Linked DNA regions of Homo sapiens: region 1 is linked to region 2. Evidence: fine-mapped expression QTL. Tissue or cell type: spleen. Region 2 holds a variant in brackets; the other region holds the start of a gene. All regions are shown on one strand. Distances are from middle to middle.

What was found. PIP is the estimated chance that this variant, and not a neighbour inherited with it, causes the effect.
Region 1: it holds the start of MELTF, and the variant in region 2 is fine-mapped to the expression of MELTF in spleen (GTEx, PIP 0.97).

Annotation. Positions count from the first base shown.
Region 1 is chr3:197,026,745-197,031,886 of GRCh38, forward strand. MELTF (melanotransferrin) reads right to left here and starts at 3,073. Exons shown (of 16, transcript NM_005929.6): 1 at 2,910-3,073; 2 at 1,012-1,166; 3 at 1-15. The coding sequence starts at 2,958. RefSeq lists silencers at 2,336-2,515, 2,706-2,755, 2,806-3,295 and enhancers at 2,829-3,465, 3,466-4,102, 4,490-5,142, 4,794-5,088.
Region 2 is chr3:196,991,823-196,996,964 of GRCh38, forward strand. It overlaps the pseudogene RPSAP30. Among named protein-coding and RNA genes, the nearest start is that of MELTF-AS1, 8.5 kb to the right of the region's middle. The variant C/T (reference allele first, on the strand shown) is at 2,702.

The sequences.
Region 1 (5,142 bases), 35 kb after region 2:
GTCAGCCTCCTGGGCCTGCAAGGAAATGTGGCTCAGCCAAGCCTGGCCCAGCTGGCCTGCTCAGCAAAGAACTCGGGACACCTACCAGATGGCCTGGGGCCCCACCCCAAGCCCCAGAGGGCTGTGCTGTCCTTCTCATCTGTCCCAGGAGCCCAACCAGAGCCCAGGGCTCTCCCCCTTTCCCAGGCCAGGGATTCACCTTGTTTTCCTAATAATGTTAAAAAAAAAATACTAATCATTGATTTTGCAGGACTCAGATATCATAGTAAAAAAATCAGATAGCAGAAAACGGTGCGCAGTGACAAGTGAGTCTCCCTCGCTTTCTGTCCCTCCACCCTGCGCCTCTACTGCTACCCTAGGTTTTCTAGCTTTTTTTCTCTAAGGTGGTCTGTGCTTGGGGTTTCTGCCCTCACATGGAGCCTGACCCACAGCCTTGGCCCCAGTGTGGGCCTGTGATTGGATTAGGTCTTGGGGGCATATGGGGGGCAGAGCTGGAATGAAAAGCCAGCTTTCTTTGCACCCACCCAGGAGGGACGCCACTCTCTGGTGGTGCCTCGGAGGATTGTCAGTGTCATTTAGCAGTTCTCAGCAGACCTGCTCTCCTACCCCATGCTCACCCACCTGGGAGTCCAGCCCCTGCTCCTCCTTCCCCAGAAACCACACAAGCCCCATTCTGGAGAGCCCCATGGCAAGATGAGCAAGTAACCGCCTGCGGCCACTGAGGGGCCGCCACCATCTGGGCCCCCTTGGCAGGGGCCTTGTGGAAGGGAAGCCTCTCAGGTGCCTTTCTTTGCTGGCGCCCTCTGAGCAGCGGGTCCTCCTGAGGCTCCCACCTCCTGGCCTGGGCCCGGCGGGAGGCAAGCTGGCCTCGTGGCCAGGGAGACTCGGGAGATCCTATCGGCCGGGCCTGGCAGGGCGAGGTCGGCTCCTTTCCTGGTGAATGGGGCTGTTGTGTGCTCCCTCCTGAGTCACAGCCCTCTTGTCTGGCAGGGTGGAAGGGAGAGGACTCACCGCGATGAGCTGGACGCAGTGGTCGGCGGAGGTGCCCCGGACGCAGAGGAGGGAGGGCTGGATGCCCGCTTCCCGGAAGGCCTCGCTCATGTTGCCGCACTTGTGCTGCTCTGGGTCCGAGGTGGCGCACCACCGCACCTCCATGCCACCGAGCACTGCGGGCAGGGGACCGTGAGGCCCGGCTCCCCCGCCCTGCCCAGCCCCGGCCCACCATGGAGGGTGGCTCCAGCAGTTCTGTGTGAGCCCATTCGCCTGGACAGCCAGTCCTCTAGGGCAGCCCTGCCCTCCCACAGGGAGGCACTAGGCGCAGAGACAGGGGAAGGGCTGGTATTCCTGTGCTCAGGGCCTCTCTGACCAGGAGCACGGCTGCTGGCAAATGGAATGGCTCAGAACCCGGCCCTTTATGGAGGAATGGGAGGGTCTACAGGTCGCTTCTCAGCTACCCCCACCTGGTGGGAGCACTGGCTAGGGAGTCTCGGCAGGCCCTGGAAGTGGAAGCTTCTTCCCCTCTCCAGGCCTCCCGAAGAGGGTGCTCGTGTAGGTTCCCTCACCCAGCAGTGTCCCTGGGCCTTCCTCATGAACTGGGACGGGAGAGTGAGGTGAGGGGGCTGTGGGTGGGCTGCCCTCCAGGAGCCCTGTCCCCTCGGGGAGTGTCTGCGATGATGCTGGCTGCAAAGCCACCCTCGGTGGGCACAGTGCCAGGCCCTGCCAAGGGAAGACGGCAGGCACAGAGGGGAGGCTGAGGACCCATCAGGGTAGGTTCAAGCCTCTCTGAGCCTGCTTCATCTTCTGAGAGAGCAGATAAAAACCCCACCTTCTGTGTTGAAAGTAAACCCCCTTGTAGAGAGCCTGAGACACCCACATCCTCAGTGGACTTCTGCTTATGCCTCAGGATCTGACCGGGTCAGAGTCCCCGAGAGCTCCCAGGCTAGGGGCCCAGAGGAAGGGGTGCTGGAGCCCCTTGGGGCCGATGACTTTCAGGCCTGAGCTCCTCTGCCATTCACCCTGCCCCAGCCAGCACTGCCAGAGGCCTGTGCAGGAGGGAGGGAAACGCATGACTCCGCCCGAAACCAGGTCACCCTCCCGTGGCAGCCCCACCAGCCCAAGGGCCGAGACTGAAGCTTCCGCCACAGCCCTCCCCTCCCCACTCCTGGCGGAGGCCTGGGAAGTCGAACTGCCCTCCCCTCCGCAGCGCTCCAAGCCCCCCACCACCCAGGCGGGAAACTGCAAAGTTCAGACGGGGCGGGGGTGGCGGTGGCTTCATCGTTTGCATTGATGAGTGCGTCGCCTGCGGCCACAGCGGTGCCACGAACTCCATCCCCTCGGCGGTCGCCGCCCGCGATCCCCGCGAGCCGCTCCCCGAGGTCCCGCCTCCCGTCCCACCATCCCGGGCCCTGACTCCCCGGGGCGCCGACGCGAGGGGACCCGGCCTCCGTCTCCACCTCCATCCCTGCATGTGCCAGAAACCCCCGGGCGGACTCCCGCGCCTGCCGGTCAGTCCCTCTGAATCTTCTCCCGCGGGGGCTCGGGAGAAAGAGCTGCTCCGAGCCCCCAAAGTCTTCCTGAGTTCCTGCGCCCGTCGGGAGGGGCCGCCCTCCGGGAGCTCCTCTCCACACCCCGAGGCCTCCCCACCACGCCTCAGCCCGCGCTTCTCCTTGGAGCGTCGGAAGCCTCGGGTGTTCGAGGCCGCCTCCTCCAAGAAGCCTTCCAGACTTCCCCGTCTGCGCTTCAGTGCTAGTTCCCTCCGCCGTCCTCACTCGACCCCGAGCCCCTGCCTCCCCCGTCTCACTGCCCCGGAGCCGCAGGCTCAGGCACATTTCCAGCCCCGGGACCTGCTCAGCCGGGCCGCGGCGCCCCGGGACCCCCGCCCGCCTTTGGCTCTCACAGCGGGGCCTCACCGGTGCGCAGAGCCAGGAGCAGCCACAGAGCCCCGCTCGGACCCCGCATGGCGCCGTCGGGGCTGGCTGGGGCCGGGCTGGGGCTGGGTCCGGGTCCGAGGAGGTCCGCAGCAGCCGGGCTTCCTCCCTGCTCCCCCTCGCGCTGGCCCGAGCTCCTTAAGTGCGGCCGCGAGTTCCCGGGCGGAATCCACGCCCCTGGGGCGCAGGTCACCTCCCGCCGACCCCGGACCCCGCCCCTGGGCGGCCCCGGCGCGCCCCCTGCTGGAGGCCTCCCGCTCGGGCCCGGGCGCCGCTGCTCGGGGCTCTCGCCTCAGCCTCCTACCCCGCGTTCCAGGGTATCCTCCCCTCCTCGCGCCCTAGAAAGACTCCAGATACCGTGTCTAACTGGAGAGAGAAAAGCTCAGACGTGGAAGGAAGGAGAGGTCAGAATCCCAGAGTCGGGGCTGGAGGGCAGCTGGAGGATGATCTCATTCACGCAGCAGCTCCCTCCCAGCACAGCTGCACAGAGGATCTGGGATACGGGGGAGCCCAGGCCGAGCGCCCTGGCGAGGGGGGAGCCGGGCAGGGGCATCTCGGCCACAGCTGCACAGAGGATCTGGGATACGGGGGAGCCCAGGCCGAGCGCCCTGGCGAGGGGGGAGCCGGGCAGGGGCATCTCGGCCACAGCTGCACAGAGGATCTGGGATACGGGGGAGCCCAGGCCGAGCGCCCTGGCGAGGGGGGAGCCGGGCAGGGGCATCTCGGCCACAGCTGCACAGAGGATCTGGGATACGGGGGAGCCCAGGCCGAGCGCCCTGGCGAGGGGGGAGCCGGGCAGGGGCATCTCGGCCTAGCCGACTGCCTCTCCTCGGGCCTAGAGACGGGAGGTGACTTGCCCGAGTCAGGCATCCAGTCAGTGGCAGAGCCAGCTGATTGGAAGGTGAGAAGAGGACCAGAGAGGAATTGGAGGAAGCGGAAAAGGAGAAACAGGCGGAGAAGGGGAGGAAGAGAGTGAAGAAGGTGAGGGAGGAAAGGGTGGGTTGACCGTATTTCTAGGACAGTGGTTCTCAGTGTGGTCCCTAGGCCAGCAACGTGAGCATCACCCTGGAACTTGCTGGAAATGCAAGTGCTCAGGCCCCACCTCCGACCCACTGGATCGACAGCTCTGGGGGCGGGGCCCACAATCTGTTTTTATTTCGGGGCACAGCAAATGTTGAGAACCACTGTCGCAGGCGGGCAAAAGCGGCACTCCCCATGTGGTTGGGGATGCGGGGAATGAACTGAAGACATTGTTAGTCACCTGCCTCCATTTAGGCCTCACCTTTATGTCATCAGCCCCTCTGAGACTCAGAAATGATGTCTCTCTCTGACATGGGTAAGTACAACAGTGAGAGAGAAGACATCCCTCTGAGTTTGTCTGTCCTTGAGCTTGCTCTGCGCCCTGGGGAAGGAAGGCCTCCCTCCTATGGGGCCATGAAGCTACTGCTTATCACACACTGGATCAGGGGAAGGAACATGGGCTGGGCTTCAGGAGACTCGAGCTCTACTTTTTAAAAACCAGCGACTTACAGACCCTGGGCGAGTTCGTCGCCCTCTCTGGGCTTGTTCCCCACATGTAAAAGGTAGGTCATGATGGCCGTGACGTGCCATACTTTCCGTCTCCTGTCTGCTCTGGAGGACTTGTGCTGTGGAAGCTGTTTCTCCATCCCCCCAGATGGATCCCTTCTTCCTAGTTTGCACAAAGGTGCCGAATGGACTAGCAGGCAGCCTTGCTAGAGGGGCTGATGGCTTGTCCTAAGAAGATGGAATAAATAGAAGAGTCCTTAACAAGCCTCGTTCTCCTGACCACGAGGATAGAAAGGCTCAGTTGGCACACTCCAGGAGCCACCAGATGACTGGCAGGATCTGTTTGATGACTAAGTCCTTCCTTTGGCAAAACTCCACGTGACGCTGATAGGGAGTGAGAACAACCATAACCTAAGAGGTTTGCTGGGCTCTTTCACAATGAAGTTCTTCCCTTATCTCTTGGGTGTCATTCAGCTGTGACTCATCAGTGAACTTGCTGCCTCTGGGTTCTCAGGGATTCTACATCGGGCCCGTTGGCCCAGGGTTGGCATGAACGCGCATCACCTTTGTGGAATGGGGAAGTCTGCCTCAGCTTGAGCCAGGATTCTGCCATTTCTGGGGTCCGGACATACTTGGGTGTGCCAGAGAAATGGGTGGGATGTAATGAGAGAGTAATAAGCCAGTAGTT
Region 2 (5,142 bases):
GTGTCCATGAGGGCTGCCGTAGGGATAGAAAGGCCAGGCCCTCTTGCCTCAAGGCAAGATAACTCGGAAGGTTCACCAGCCGGGGCCTTCCTGGCTACTGCATGGCACTCACTCCTCTCTCTGCCCGTCCCGTGGCTTCTTACCCCCTGGCAGGCACTGTTTGTGAGAGCACTCCCTGAGAAGCCTGCACACAAATCTCCGTCCTCGAGTGTTTTCCTGGGAACCCAACCTGTGACAGTTGGTGCCAGGAAGGATCCTAGGAACAGACTCTAAAATGGGATCTTGGTGCTGCGTCCCCTGCCGGCCAGCTGGCAAGCAGGACCAGGCACATGGCTGTGGCACAGCTGTTCCCACTCGCCCGGCGGAGAGCGGGTGGGGAGCTGGTGGGAGGGATGTGCTGATGGAGGCTGGTCCCGCACACTGTGTCCTGTTACGCCACAGCCGGGAACCAGACCCTGGGTTCAAGTCCGGAGCTGTGATGGCTGCGTCCTCATCAGCAGGAAGCCCTGTCTCCTAAACGCTTTGGTTTCCTGAACTGTGAGGGGGTGAGGCGAGCTGATTGGCCAAGCTGATTCACCGCGGTCCCTTCCAGCTCTAGCATCCTACACAAGCCCGAGAACTAGGGAGAGGGGTTTGGGCGGGATGGGAGCGCCCTGGAGCCAACAGTGTGAATAAGCGAAGGGTAGTGGATGGAGGAGGCTGGAGGAGATCTTCTGGGGCCCACGCTGCCCGAAGCGGCCTGTTTCATCCTGGGCTCAGGCCCTCCCCTTCCTCCCCCGAGCCCTCCCAGGTTCTGATGCTAGGGCACCTGTCGCTGACCCAGCTGGGCCTGGATTTTCGTCTACTTTCCTCAGGATGCCCTTGTCTCCTAGACTTCCCTTTCTTCCTCCTGCGTCTGCCCCAGCCTGGCAGGAGTGTGCACTCAGGACCATTAGCAGTTGGGGAAGCTGGAGAGGACGTTGCTCAGGCACACGTTTGTGGGCTGTGGAGCCCTGAGGAGCCTCTGGGCTGTGGGTGCCTCCCTGCATCCCCTCCCAGCCAGCCCACAGGCAGGCACTCAGGGAAGACGTGGAGGCTCTGAAGGGCTAAGCGACAGCTTGAAGGCCACACAGCTGGTCACAGGGCCACATCCCCCACGTCCACATCCAGGACTGAGTAGCCCCAAGCTGCAGCTCCTTCCGCAGCCTCCTCAGCCTCCTCATTGAGGCCACCTGCGTTGTTCAGAGTTGAGAGGTGACATTGGGACTGTGCTTGGGACAGTGGAAGTTTTACTTTTACTTTTTGTTGTTGTTGTTGTTTTTGAGATGGAGTCTTGCTAAGTCGCCCAGGCTGGAGTGCGGTGGCGCAATCTCGGCTCACTGCAACCTCTGCCTCCCGGGTTCAAGCGATTCTCCTGCCTCAGCCTCCTGAGTAGCTGGGATTATAGGTGCCCGCTACCGCACCCGGCTAGTTTTTGTATTCTTAGTAGAGACAGGGTTTTGCCATGTTGGCCAGGCTGGTCTTGAACTCCTGACCTCAGATGATCCACCTGCCTTGGCCTCCCAAAGTGCTGGGATTATAGGCGTGAGCCACTGTGCCCAGCTCTTTTACTTTGTATTTGCTTGCTTATTTATTCATTCCAAAATGATATTGATTAGATATTTAAAAGGCTTTAAAATTCAAAACAAAGAGTTAAAGAAACTAAAATAAAGTTTAAAGAAAGTAAAAATTACCCCTTAAATTCCACCAACTGGAGCTAGTCACCGTTAACAGTTTGGTGAACAGATTTCCAGACAGCTCTGTGTGTGTGAGTGTGCGTGTGAGTTTGTATGTGAGATTTTATGATAATGGGATTATATACTGTTTCATAACCTGCTCTTTTTACTCAACAATATGCCGTGGAACTCTTTCCACATCGGTAAATGTAGCTGCACCCTTCATTTAACAGCTGTAGACCATCATCCATTGCATTCCACTGGGAATGAAGGTATGAACCGTGTTTCATTTACCCAACCTAATACTGGGCATTTAGGCTGTTTCCAGTATGTCTCTTATTACAAAAAACTGAGGCACGGGCACGATGACACCTCTGTCTTGGCCATTTGTCCAGCTGCTGTCTTAGGTCCATTTCAGCAGGTTGGTCTTCAAGAACAATCCCTACAGCAAGCAGGGGTACTGTGCTGCCTCATTGCAATGGCAGATCCTCATTTTCAGGAAATCCAGGGCTCCTCCCCAAGGGGCCAGGGCAGCAGAATCACACACACGAGGAGACAGCTTTCTCCTCGGGAAGTTCTGTGTGAGAGGCAGAGAGGGGCTCTTGCCCCGAGTCCATATCTAAAGTCGTGACTAGTCGTCCCCATGACAGTCTGCTCGGCTTCCTGCTGGAGTCTGGGGGGCCTGAGGACGGCCTGCAGCTCTGCAGGGGGCTCGGCTTTTCCTCCAGGAGGCAAGTGGGCTAAAGAAACTCGGGCCGAAGGCGGCTGGGAGGCCGAGGGCATCCCGGTGGGAAGGAAGGCTTGGCCTAGTGCCGCTGCTTCTCTGCAGGCCCCAGCACAGGAACTGAGACGGTGGGATCGAAGAAGTCAAGCTCACAGTTGGAAGGGGAGAGACCCACAGCCAGATGACCATAGGGGTGACAATTCTCATGCACTTGGTCAGGGGTGGATAATAAGAAAGGGGGTTGGGAGGCGATGGGGGTAGTTTCTCCATTATCAGACTGTGG[C/T]CTATATATTGGCCGGGTGAGGCCTTTTAAAAAAACACAGACTTACTTTATATTTACGAGCAGTTTAAAGAGCAGGCCAGTTGGGCAGAAGGTACAGAGATTTTTCCATCTACCTCCCGCCCCTACACAGGCACAGCTCTCACTACATCCTTCAGAGTGGTGCGTGTGTCACAATTCACAGCCCTTCCTTTACACAGCGTTGTCACTCAGGGCCCACAGTTGTCCCTCCGTGGATTTGGATTCATGTATCCATAACGACATGTATCCACCATTGTGTACACATTTGTAGTCAGCCTCCCTTTCTTAAAACTATGCCTTGCAGTGAAACTGCAACTCCCCTGCCCCTAACACAGACACACACACGCGCACGCACACACAGACACACGCACACACAGACACACACGCACACGCACACAGACACACACGCACACAGACACACACGCACACAGACACGCACACAGACACACACGCACACGCACACACAGACACACAGACGCACACAGACACGCACGCACACGCACGCACACGCACACATGCACAGAGACATGCACAGACACACATGCACAAACACGCGCAAACACGCAGACACGTGCACACACAAGCACAGACACACACAGACACACGTACACAGACGCACATGCACACACACAAATGCACATGCACACATGCACACACATGCACATGCACACATGCACACACATGCACATAGACACACAGACACAGACACACACGCACATAGACACGCACACAGACACATGCACACACAGACATGCACACACGCGCACATACAGACACAGAGACACACATACACACACAGAGACACACGCAGACACAGACACACACAGACATGCGCACACACACATGCGCGCACACATACAGCACACAGACACATATATGCAGACACGCAGACATGCAGACACACACGCACACACACATGCAGGTGCATGCACATACACACACACACACACACACACACAGTTTTTTGCCAAGGGAAGAGACATAGGTGAATGTATTTTACTGTTTTCAAAGGCAAGCTTTCCTCTCCACCCCTGCAGTGTGTCCCACGGTCACAGATTGGTTTACTGGGGCTACGGTGATTCCATCACAGGCTGGGCTTGGAGTCTGGAGGAGGCCTTCCAAAGAGGGCAGGAAGAGAAGGAGGGAGCAGGCAGAATCCCAGAGGCTTCGTGGTGGAATGTGGCCAATCGTCCTCTTTAACGGAGGCTCACAGGTGCCTCTGTGGAGGGTGACTGTTCTGAGCCGACTCACACTAGCTCGATCATGAAAACATCTGTTGCAGTCTCCAGTTAGTGCCTCTGCCCACAGATGGCCTTTGAAAAGTGCTTTTGGTGCATTCTGCCTCTGAGACAGTAGGCCCCCTCCCTCCCGCCTCCCTAGAAAGCTCACAGAACCGACAGGTGCTGTAAGGAATCCACACCAGGATAGGGCTGTGGCTGGGCCAGGGTGGAGGATGGTGTGGTTTGGGGCAGCCTGCATCTATTTTCTATTGTTTCATTCTTTACTGACAGTACCCTGCTCTTTCCTCTTCCCCAGTCTCAGACCTTGTACTCTGGAGGGGATGGCTCTGCCCCCAGAACCAGGGCTCTGCCACGTGACACAGGCCTAAGCTGGCCCACACATCACAGAGGTTGCCTCATGACCTGGTTGCCACCAGTTAAAAGGGCCTCAGGCTTCTCTCTTGAGGCAGCTCCAACCGGCCATCCCACCTAACTTACAAAACGTGTGGGGCCGGGAACGGGTCTGCAGAGATCCCCTGGGGCTTCTTCCAGGGACAAATGTGAATCCGAAGGTCGAAGTCAAAGAGATACTTAGAAACAATTCCCCTTTGGGATGTTAAAATGCTTCCAACAACTGGACTGAATATTGCAGACCCCTCAAATCCTGTGCTTCAAGGGTTCCTTTTGGCTGAACACTGAGAAGACCCCCAACCCCAGGTGTCACCTGTTCACAAGGTGACTTCCTGCCCCATCCCTGAAACCCTCCACTCATGCCCATCTCGGGAACTTTCAGCTGGGACCAGCTCTGGTTCTTGAATCTGAGCTACAGAAGGGCCTAAGGAGACCCTGGAGGCCTTCTGGGTCACCCCACAGATGAAGGAACAGGGCCCACAGAGCGGCCGTGACTTTCCCTGAGCCACACAAAGCCAAGACAAGAGCCTGGGAGCCCCAAGGGCCCATCTCGGGCTCTTTCCACTGTTACCACTTATATCAATTCAGAATGCAGCCAGCTGAAACAAGAGAAGACAGGAATCAGCTGTCAGGGAGTCTAGACTGTTCCAGGCCTGGGTGCTGCCACCTGAGCCGAACGCTTTTGTCTCTTTGCTCTGCTGTCCTGACCATGCGGTCCTTTTCCTTGTGCTTCTTGCTCCATTTTCCAGCGATCCTGTCCACTTTCCGGGCAGGAAGAGGGAGACGGGCTCC